Regions from separate parts of the Homo sapiens genome. Here region 2 is linked to region 1. Evidence: fine-mapped expression QTL. A gene starts in region 1. The other region holds a variant in brackets. All regions are shown on one strand. Distances are between the middles of the regions.

Region 1 (5,373 bases):
AGGAAAGCTTCAGCTTGGAGGTTGAGGCTGCAGTGAGCCATGATTGTGCCACTGCACTCCTGCCTGGGCACCAAAGTGAGACAAAGATAGAAAGAAGACAGAGAGAGAGAGAGAAAGGAAGGAAGGAAGGAAGGAAGGAAAAAAAGGAAAAGAAGGAAAGAGAGAAAAAAGAAAACAAAAGAAAAGAAAGATCTTGGAGGTCATGTACTTTGATGTTCCCTTCTACTAATGAGGAAAGGGGGAACAGGGGAAGTTAAAACCCTTGGTGAAGGTCAAATGGCAAGTAAGCAAAAGAAATGGGTCAGGAAACCCAGTCTCCTTGCTCTTGGTGCTCATGGCACTACATATTACACTGCTGTTACCTTGATATTTGGATAAAGGAATGCAACATACTGCTCCTCCCAAAAGGTTTTACTACTTTACACAGGTTAGCTGGTCATTTTATTTTTGCTTCTTTAACTCAACCCCTTTCACCTGGGCCTAGTTCTCATCAAAGGGTGGTATTCAATGTATCCAATGAACCCAATTAGCATTTCTAAAACGCCTGGGCAACACAACCAATAAGAAGATGCTATTGAACCTCTTACTTCCCCACTAATCCCCCTGCAGTTGGCAGAACTTAGCTGCCATGCTCAGTCTACAGACTACAAAGTTGCTTTGAGTTTCAAAAGTGGGGATCTGGAAAAGGATCTTGGCACAGCCCAAAAAAATAAGAATACTTTCACAACGATCCCTCATCCAGAGTTAGACTTGCTGACTTTAGAGGGTGGGAGTGTAAACTAAGGAGAATCATATACAAACCACCTATGGGAATCTAAGAGGTGATAGGCTGGTAGGCTCTTTGGAGGTGGCTGGGACAGAGAAAAAAGAAGAGGGACAGGACCTCTGTGAATCAAAGTCAGATGTGCCTGCCTTAGACAATCATTGTTTAATGTTGTCTAATATTTTAACTCCTTCAAAATGTCAACTGTTCCTACAGAATACACACATGTCAAATTTCCAAGACAGCATCATCTACCTGTACCATGCTCCAAATCCCATCCTCCCAGCTGCCCCTACTTGAACCAGACTGACCTGCAAAAATAGAGCAGAAAACTCACAGGCAGTAATGTTCCCCTTAAATACCCTACAATATGTCATTAACAAGAATCACGATGAAACACTATTGTAGAAATTGCCAGCATTAAACCAAAAGAATGTTGGTCAGTTCATGTTTCTTTTACAGTGTGACTTTGTTTGAGAGGGATAAAGGACAGGAAGAGGAGTGTACATCTTGCTTTAGCTGTTCCTCACTTGGCTAAGGAACTTTTGCTGTAGGAAGTGAAGACCCTGCACCTAGTTACAAGGCTTTTGATGCTTGTTTGTCAAGTTCAACTGTTAAAGGGGAGATAGGCTCTTCCCTAGTAGGGAGAGGGAGGAAGGAAAGGGGGATGGGGCGGGGGGAGGGAACAGGTAATATCTGCCATATAAATATTAGTATGTAGCTGACACGTTATAAACTGAGCTGTTAGGGTGAATTTCAATTTTGTTGGAATCGACCTTTTTTCCCTCTTAAGTTCAATTGACTTACAGTAGATCCCAGAAAGAACTCAATACGTTATTTATTCTAGAAAGCTTTCTTCCCTGAGCAAAGGAGGCAGAGCTAACGAGGAGAAGGGAGGAGCTTAGGTGAACAGAACTGAAGTCACAGCTGGTTAGCATGACTAGAATGCATGGAAAAGCCAGCCCAAATTAGATGAGTGGGTAGATAGAGAGCTTTGAAATCCTTGGAATTAATGGTGGAGTCCATCGTAATTGAAAGGTCGGGCCTTAGTGGGCTGGGATAGGGAGAGAAGCTGTCGGGGACCTGGGGCAGTGAGCCTGTACCCCGTGGCTTCTCACACACTATTTTGAAGGCGTTCCCATGCGCAATCTCGCCTGTCAGTTCAGGCTGTAGGTTTCTCCTTTCTAACTCCTGAGCAGAACAACACTGAACGGTGGTAGTCTTGCCTTGCCACCCAATGAGTGCTAGAAAACAGTCACTTCAACCAATTGGTTCAGTCCGGAGAACGTGAGCACATTCTACTTTACTTTCTGTTCAATGATTTTGGAAAACAACCTTTTAGATTCTGGTCAGAAGGGGCTTGGATCCGTGACTTTGAAACACTCGCCACTACCACAAACGACTTTGGAAGTTAATCAGAAATAAACAGTATCTGGGATCTCATCCGTCCTAAACCCAGGGGTCAGAGCGTGGGGGGCTTCCACTAACTTCAGGTTAAGAGGATGAAACAGATCCGCGGAGAAGGGTCCCACGATCCCTGGAGACTAAAAGCAAGCCACGAACAGCCGGGACGCGCGGGCCGGGGAGATGCGCCGGGGGCTGGAGGGCGGAGAGCACCCCCCGCAGGTCCCGGCCAGAGCCCGGGGCCGGGTCACCTGACTCGCGGAATTTGGGGCCGCGAGGGGTGGAATGGGAGGGGAATGGTTAGCGCCTCCCTTCCCGCTCCCACTGGATCCAGGTCGGCGGGGGCCGGCGCCCGGCGGCCACGTGGTGGTGCTGCCGCTGCCCCCGCCCCGCCGGCCTAGCCCGGGAGCTCGGCGCCCACTGACCCCCGCAGCGGGGGAGGAGGAGGGACTGCGGCGCAGGAAGCCGAGCAGGAAGCGAGCCCGGCGGCCGCGTTTTCCTGGGGAAGCGGCGGGCGGGGTGGAGCAGCCAGCTGGGTCCGGGGAGCGCCGCCGCCGCCTCGATGGGGTGAGTGCGCGGCACGGAGTTGGGAGGCTCCCGGCGCGGGGTCCCGGGCTCGTGTCCCCGCCTTTGTGTCTGGAGCTCGGGCGCGGGAGGCGCTGGGGACGGCGCCCGGGCGGAGCGGCTGAGCGGGCTGCAGCCGGGGTCCCGCCACCTCTCCCTGGTCCACCGCCGGCAGCCCACTGTCTGCGGAGAGCAGATCTGGGGACAAGAGGAAGGAGAGGAAGGTGGAGATGAGGGTAGAGCGGGAAGACCCGGCCAAGTTAGGAGAAGGGTTCTTCCCGGGTCCTCCGCGACTCGCAGGCCGGCTGGGGCGGGGCGCGGGGCAGGGGCCGCGGCGGAGGGAGCGCGGGTGGGAATGAATGAGCAGACCCGGAGATGCACCCTGGAGTCTGCGCCGGGTCCCACCTGTTTCGCCCCGCGCGGCGCCTCGCTGCCCCCGCGTCGGTGCTGCTGAGCCCAATCCGCCTCCCGGCTGAACTTGGAGGAGGTGGGGAGGGAGGTGCGAGCGGGAGACTCCGGGTGGCTCCCAGGACGCGGGGTCCGCTATTGTTCCTCCTCTGACTCCAGGGAGCCCCTCGGCCGGCCCAAGGGCGGGGGCGAGACCCCTCTGGGCCTGCCCCTGCCCCCTACCTTGTTTTCCCCGCCGCAGCTCGGGGAGAACGGATGCTGGAGTTGGGGCAGACTCGGGGCCGCCGGGACTTCGGGAGTAAGGAGGACGTGGAGCCACCAGAAAGGCGCCCGCCATCTCCCGCGACCCCTGCCTGGTGGGGGGTGGGGGGTGGGGTGTCGTCCTCAACCACCTTCGCTGCCTTCTTGGGCAGGTTGGTGTCGGTTTAGTTTCTGCGGTTTGCAGGGTTGACATCCTAACTCCTTTGAGTTTCGCATCCCCCTTTTGTGGAGGGGGCTCAGAGCCTGGAGAAGCAACAGACGGGGAATTAAGGCAGATGCAGCCCAGCACAGCGTGGAGGGGTCCGAAGTGGCCTCACGGGGGCCTGAGCATGGCTGTCTTTCCAGGCTCCTCTTTATTTGCCAGGAGCCCAGCTAAGCCCAACTTTACTCCCAGAAATGTTGAGGGGAATCTGCGGACTCGAGGCCCCTCGCCTCGGGACCAGCGGCTTCTCTTCGCCGCAGCTCACGCATGATCGGGGTGGGATTCCGTCTTCCTTCCGGGAGAGGAGAATGCCCAGCTGCCTGGGATGGGGAAACGTTGCCGGATCTCTGGGGAATGTGGTCTCAAGGCTGCAGGGGCCTGGCAGAGAGGAACTGTCCATCACTAGGACATAGCCGAAGCTCGCCTTAGCGAAGAGAGTCTCACCTCCTCGGGCTTTGCACAGAGTTGGAGAAGAGGTCGGGAATCACAGGGAGGCTGGATTTTGGCTGCTCTGTCCCCAGCCTGCAGGTCCCTGTTCGCCCTGTGGCTCGGAATTTTATTACTGATGTATATAATCTGATAATCTTTTCTTAATGATGCCTAACAAGTGTGATTTTTTTCCCCCTTGGGTTTGTAAGACAGTTGATTTTATGTGAGGAGATTGATCCAGTTCTTATATTTTAGCCAGTGCTTGTCTAACAGAGATTGGGAGAGCTATCCCGTGCTGGGCTGTTGCACAGTTTTCATCTCCATTCACTGAGATGCTTCAGTAATGAATTTATTGTTTTATGGCTTTTTGGAGATGGTGGTGGTGGTGGTGTGATTATAACCCTGCTGGAAAATCTTATTACTGTTATCTGAATTGAAGAGACAGAAAGGATGCTGAGCCCCCTAGGGATTCCGTAGGGGAATGATGTAGTGTCCCGCCCACCAGTAGTGAACCTGACAGTGAAATTCTCTCTCCAGTCTGCTAGTTTTCAAAGCATGTTCTAGGCAGGTACACGTACTATCACCTAGGCTTTAAAAGTGAAGAAGCAGATTTGGAGGTTAAGAACAACTGGGCCTTGGAATTAATAGAATGCAGTGGACAACTTTTGCCTCTCCTTCCTCCACCCCCTCCCTCCCTTCCTTCTTTCCTTTTTTTTCATCCTTTAAAAATAAAAATAAGGGCCAGGCATGGTGCTTATGCCTGTAATCCCAGCACTTTGGGAGGCCGAGGCAGGCGGATCATGAGGTCAGGAGATCGAGACCATCCTGGCCAACACAGTGAAACCCCGTCTCTACTAAAAATACAAAAAATAAAAATTAGCTGGGCGTGGTGGCACGCACTTGTAATCCCAGCTACTTGAGAGGCTGAGGCAGGAGAATCGCTTGAACCCGGGAGGTGGAGGTTGCAGTGAGCTGGGATTGCGCCACTGCACTCCAACCTGGCGACAGAGCAAGACTCTGTCTCAAATAAATAAATAAATAAATAAGTATGAAATATTTCTAACATACATAAAAACAGAGTATAGTAAGCCATTTTGTCTTCTACTTCCTAGGTTTAATAGTTGCTAATATTTTCATATTTGATCCATACCTCTCCCCCCCCGGAAAAATAAACTATAACTTAAATATTTGATCTATTCCTACTCCTTTGCCTCCATCCTCAGGTAACCTCTAATGTGAAGTTAGCGCACACAGTTCTCAAGCATGTTTGGAACTACACTGTATCCACAAAAAAATACATGTGAGTTTGTGTTTAACATTTTACATAAATGGCATAATTCTA
Region 2 (5,373 bases), 52 kb before region 1:
CATATGAAGAGCCAACAAACAGGCATGGTGTGGTGGCTCATGCCTATAATCCCAGCATTTTGGGAGGCCAAAGTGGGAGGATGGCTTGAGTTCAGGAGTTCAAGACCAGCCTGGACAACATGGCAAGACCCCATCTCAGAAAAGGAAAAAAAAAAAAGCAAATAAAATTTTGAAAGCAAACAAACAAATAAATAAATAAAAAGATCTGGAGGAACTCCAGGACAGAATGGGCAGCTAGGTCTCCCCAAGCCTTGGAACCCAGTATGAAAAGCTCTCAGGGACTAGGGATGCAAGCTTCCTAGTCTTAATCCCTCAATTCCACCCATCCCTCCACCACATACTTTCTCACTTTGGCTTCTGTGCATATTTGCTTCATCCTTTCTTCTCTGCACAATAGATTTCTCTGTTGCCCATGAATATGGTGTAAGACAATCCACTCCACAACTCCCAAGTTCCTATATCCTCAGTTCAAATGATCTGCAGAGGCTACTGGCTTCTTTGGCTTCCAATTCCAAATTTCCAGGAGAGAGAATTTGATTGTCTCTTCCTAGTGCAACAACAGAAGTGATGTTATATGAAATAAACATGGCTTCTGGGCCCATCTCCAGGACAGAGCAGCTCTCAGAGATAGAATGTGGAACTGCAGGCTGGGCGGATGCACTCAAGGGTGTCTCCAATAGTTTTAGGCCCAGATGAATATTTTGGAGGTGGGGGAGGAAATAATGAAAGTGATCTTAGGAAGCTTCAACAGGGAGCAAAATGGGTTAGAAGGGAAAAGATCATGGAGGTGGAAGACCAAAGAGGCGCTGTCGGAATCTAAGCATTGAAAGCTTGAAATATGTGGCTATGGCTGGGTGCAGTGGCTCATGCTTGTAATCCCAGCACTTTGGGAGGTCAAGGCAGGTGGATCACTTGAGGCCAGAAGTTCGAGACCACCCTGGCCAACATGGCAAAACCCCATCTCTACTAAAAATACAAAGAAAAATAGCCAGATGTGGTGGCGGGCACCTGTAATCTCAGCTACTTGGGAGACTGAGGCAGGAGAAGAATCGCTTGAACCTGGGAGGCAGAAGCTGCAGTGAGCCGAGAGCACATCACTGTACTCCAGCCTGGGCAACAAAGAGAGACCCTGTCTAAGAAAATAAAGAAGAAGGGAAAGAAATAAGTAACTATGGTCAATCTGACCACTATTCTCTGGAAAAATACACTTGGTTCAAAAAAAAACTTCATATTTAGTCATGAAAGGGACATTTCTTATTTCATAGCTTGGAGCCAACCCTGAGCTGTTTGATTATAAATATACATATATATATATAATCATATATAGGCTACGTATATGTTGATGGTGGATTTCTCTTTATTCAGTGGTTACCCAACTTCCTGCTTTGAAGTTAGGACCTGGGATGGCCTACATTAGTAAGGGGAAGCCTATAAAATGAGGTGGGTCCCATGCTATCCTACTCTAGCTAATATACAAGGCATTATAAATTCTCATTCCCTGAAGCTGGTCAAAATTTGTTTCTTCATCTGTTGCTAGTTAACTGGATTGGTTAGCTGAGGTCACAGTCGCTGGGCTAAGCCCATGCCTAGGACACTCAGCTCCACTGTGGTTCTTGACCACAACCATATCCTCATGAGGCTCCGTATCAGGTCCAGCTATGGGTGGATTAGGAGAGGAGAAAGCAAGGCTCTACCTTGGTGTTTAGAAAAAACATTGTAAATGGTACCCCTCCTCCAACATTTTCAGCTTTCTCCTGCTACCCCTTGTGTTTATGATAATGGTACTTGGGATTATCCTCCCTGGTATTCTGATCTTTAGTGTTAGATATTGTAGCTATATCTCCTAGCCTCAGAACTTGCTTTCATTTATAATAGAATAATACGGCTACAATATCTTTTTTGTGTTTTTAACAACCCTGTTAGAATTAAACAGAAAACTCCACTCAAGTGACCTAAAACAAACAAAAAAGTCGTAAGGCCTCATATACAATATGAAGAAGTCCCAAGGTAGGGATACGAATCAGTTTGCTAGGGCTGTGATTACAAAATACCATAGACAGGGTGGCTCAAACAGTGGAAGTTAATTTTTTCACAGTTCTGGAGGCTAGAAGTCTGAGATCACGGTGTTGGCAGGTTATTTCCTCCTAAGGCCTGTCCCCTTGGCTTGTGGAAGCCACCTTCTCTGGCCATGTGCATCCCTGGTGTCTCTCTCCATGTGTCCTAAGCTCCTCTTCTTATTAGGAGACAAGTCAGATCAGATTAGGGCTCACCCAGATGACTTCATCTGACCTTAATTACCTCTGTAGAGGCCCTATCTGCAAATACAGTCATGTTTTAAGGTATTGGGGATTAGGACTTCAACATATGAATGGGGATGGGGGGGCACTGTTCCGTGTATGACAGGAAATTCTGTGGTTGGTTAATTTAGTGATTCAGTTAAATCCTCAGGCCCCAGGTGTTGCCATCTCTGCCCAGCTACCCTTACTTAACATATGGGTTTTATCCTCAGGCTAGCACCCTCATGTTTTAAAATGACTG[C/T]TGCAGTTCCAGGTACCACATCCAGACATGAGAAGGCCCAGGAGAATAAGAAACCATCTTTTTCTGTGTATCTCTCTTTACAAGCCTTTCAAAAGATTCCAGAATGCACTTCTCTTGTCTCCCTGAGCAGATCTGTTAATGTGCCCATGCCCAAACTAATCACCAGCAAGAGAAAAAGACAGCATGATTGGCTTGGGCTAATCACAATTTATCCCCTGGGTCTGGGCCAACCTCCCTAAGAGCACAGGGTTGCTTTAAGGAAGACGGGGTAGGGGCATGGTCCTGCACAAAATCAGGGTCCTATGATGAAAAAGGAAAGGGAGAAATGGAAAACAATAATGTCTTCTGCAACCATTCGCCATCTTGCTTCCCTTATAATTGTTATTCTAGGATCTGCTGGTAAAACCAATCTTTGCACCTGCAATCAAGAGCCCTGTTAATAAATATCAGCTTGCCTGGGCTGAGCCACTGAGAGTGGCAGTCTTCTCCAGCTTACGTCTTCTCTTCCCACCCCCATGGCCCCACCCCAAGTTTAGTTGCCTCTTTTGAACACAGCCAGCATCTTTTACTCAACTAGCAACCAGATCTCAGTTGCTATGCAGAAGATGTAACTACCCTTTCCCTCCCTAGCCATTTTGCAAATATGTATCATTGAGAATAAGAGGAATTGGATAAAAGAACATGGATCACTCAGTGCACACTCATCACCAAAATGAAGAAAATAACTTGAAAGCTATATCATACAAATGGTGGGTTACTAACTGGGATAGTCTTTATGTGTGTCAGTTCACAAGGGCATGTATCAATATTATTCAGAAGCTGTTTCTAAACTGAAGATAACTTTTTTAAATTTAGAAAAGCTTTCTAATTTCTCATTGGTTTCATTATTGTACTGCTTGCATCAAAAAAGGAGAATCAGATTATTGTGCTCTGTTTTCTCCCCTAGATCATCCAAGAAGAATTTAAAAATTTAATATGTGCAGTAAAAACCCATGGTCTATGTATTTTTTTTTTTTTTTTTTTTTTTGGAAACAGGGTCTCACTCTATCATCCAGTCTGGAGTGCAGTGGTGCGATCATGGCTCATTGTAGCCTCAACATCCTGGGCTCAAGTGATCCTCCCACCTCAGCCTCCCAAGTAGCTGGGAGGTGCCCGCCACCATGCATGGCTAGTTTTTGTATTTTTTGTAGAGACGGGGTTTCACCATGTTGCCCAGGCTGGTCTCAAACTCCTGGGCTCAAGCAATCTGCCCATGTTGGCCTCCCAAAGTACTGGGATTACAGGCATGAGCCACCTTGCCTGACCCACAGTCTATTTTTTGATCTTCCGTGAGTGTCTTATTCTTTAACAGTTTATTTATTTGAGTTAGAAATGGCTTTGCTTCCAAGATATAAAGGTTATTTTGTTTTGCTTTTTGATGAGCAATGTGTGAATAAATAAGACAGAGAGAAAGGTTTTTTTTCTCCAACAATTTCTATTTAATATTACTAATTCTTTAACAATATGTGCTTGGTGTGTCCCTGATCACTTATTTAATATCGCATTTCCTACCCCAGCTCTCTTTCAGTGAATGAATGCTACACTAGATGTGATTCACAACTGTAGCCTCCTGCTTTGGGCATTTGCCTCTGATAAGCATGGGCAGAGGGATGAAAGGGGCCTTTTTCTGGAATGAATTGGGTCGGGATCACAAGAAGCACTGATCATGCTCTCCTGGCTGGTGAGCCACGTGGCAAGAGAGGAGACGATAAGGGATCTGGGAACCCAGTCATGGTATTAAGCAACCAGGGAGGTTAGCCTTGAGAAAAGAAGAAATGGAAACCCTTACAACTATCATTAGCTGTTTTTAATGAAGAAAAAATAAAGCAATAACGTAACAATAATAGTAGGTAATTTTACTGAGCACTTACTAAGATGAAGTCTCCAAAAAGCTAAATTATGCCTAATCATGAAAAACAAATATAGCCATCTGAGACCCAAATGGGCTTCCTGGTAAATTACATTGCCCTCTGGCCCTGGAGCATTCAAATGCAAGCCAGCTGCTAATCTGTCAATAATGCCCCAGAAGGAGGTTGTATTGAGCCGAGATTGCACTATTGCACTCCAGCCTGGGCGACAGAGCGAGACTCCATCTCAAAAAAAAAAAAAAAAAAAAGGCTCTAGAAAGGACTGCTCTCTCTCTCTCTCTCTTTTTTTTTTTTTTTTTTTTTTTTTTTTTTTTTTTTTTTTTTTTTTTTTTGAGACAGAGTCTGGCTCTGTCGCCCAGGCTGGAGTGCAGTGGCACAATCTTGGCTCACTACAAGCTCCACCTCCCAGGTTCATGCCATTCTCCTGCCTCAGCCTCCCGAGTAGCTTGGGACTACAGGCGCCCGCCACCACGCCCGGCTAATTTTTTGTATTTTTAGTAGAGATGGGGTTTCAGCATGTTAGCCAGGATGGTCTCGATCTCCTGACCTCACTATCCGCCCTCCTCAGCCTCCCAAAGTACTGGGATTACAGGCGTGAGCCACCGCACCCAGCCCAAGACTGCTCTCTTGAAGTGGGATTTGTGCTAAATGATTTCTAACATTCCTTCTTCATGCTGAATCTATGATTCTTTAAAAGTCAGGAATGCTATTTGATTCATGGCGTTTTCTTAGGTAACATTTAATCCAATCTCCCTCACAATATGGAAACACACTCTGCAGCATCTCTGGTGCTCTGCCTCCTTGATTCATAGCACAGTAGGTGCTCCATATCCGTGGGTTCCACATCTGTGGGTTCCACATCCATAGATTCAACCAACCGCGGATAGGTAGTATTTGAAAAAACAAAACAAAAATAGATTGTTTCACC

Evidence for each region. PIP is the estimated chance that this variant, and not a neighbour inherited with it, causes the effect.
Region 2: its variant is fine-mapped to the expression of RAI14 in cerebellum (GTEx, PIP 0.91).

The regions. Positions count from the first base shown.
Region 1 is chr5:34,653,742-34,659,114 of GRCh38, forward strand. RAI14 (retinoic acid induced 14) reads left to right here and starts at 2,587. Exons shown (of 18, transcript NM_015577.3): 1 at 2,587-2,734. RAI14-DT (RAI14 divergent transcript) reads right to left here and starts at 2,432. Exons shown (of 3, transcript NR_183264.1): 1 at 2,252-2,432. RefSeq lists a silencer at 2,545-2,594.
Region 2 is chr5:34,601,993-34,607,365 of GRCh38, forward strand. No RefSeq gene overlaps it. Among named protein-coding and RNA genes, the nearest start is that of RAI14-DT, 51 kb to the right of the region's middle. The variant C/T (reference allele first, on the strand shown) is at 2,539.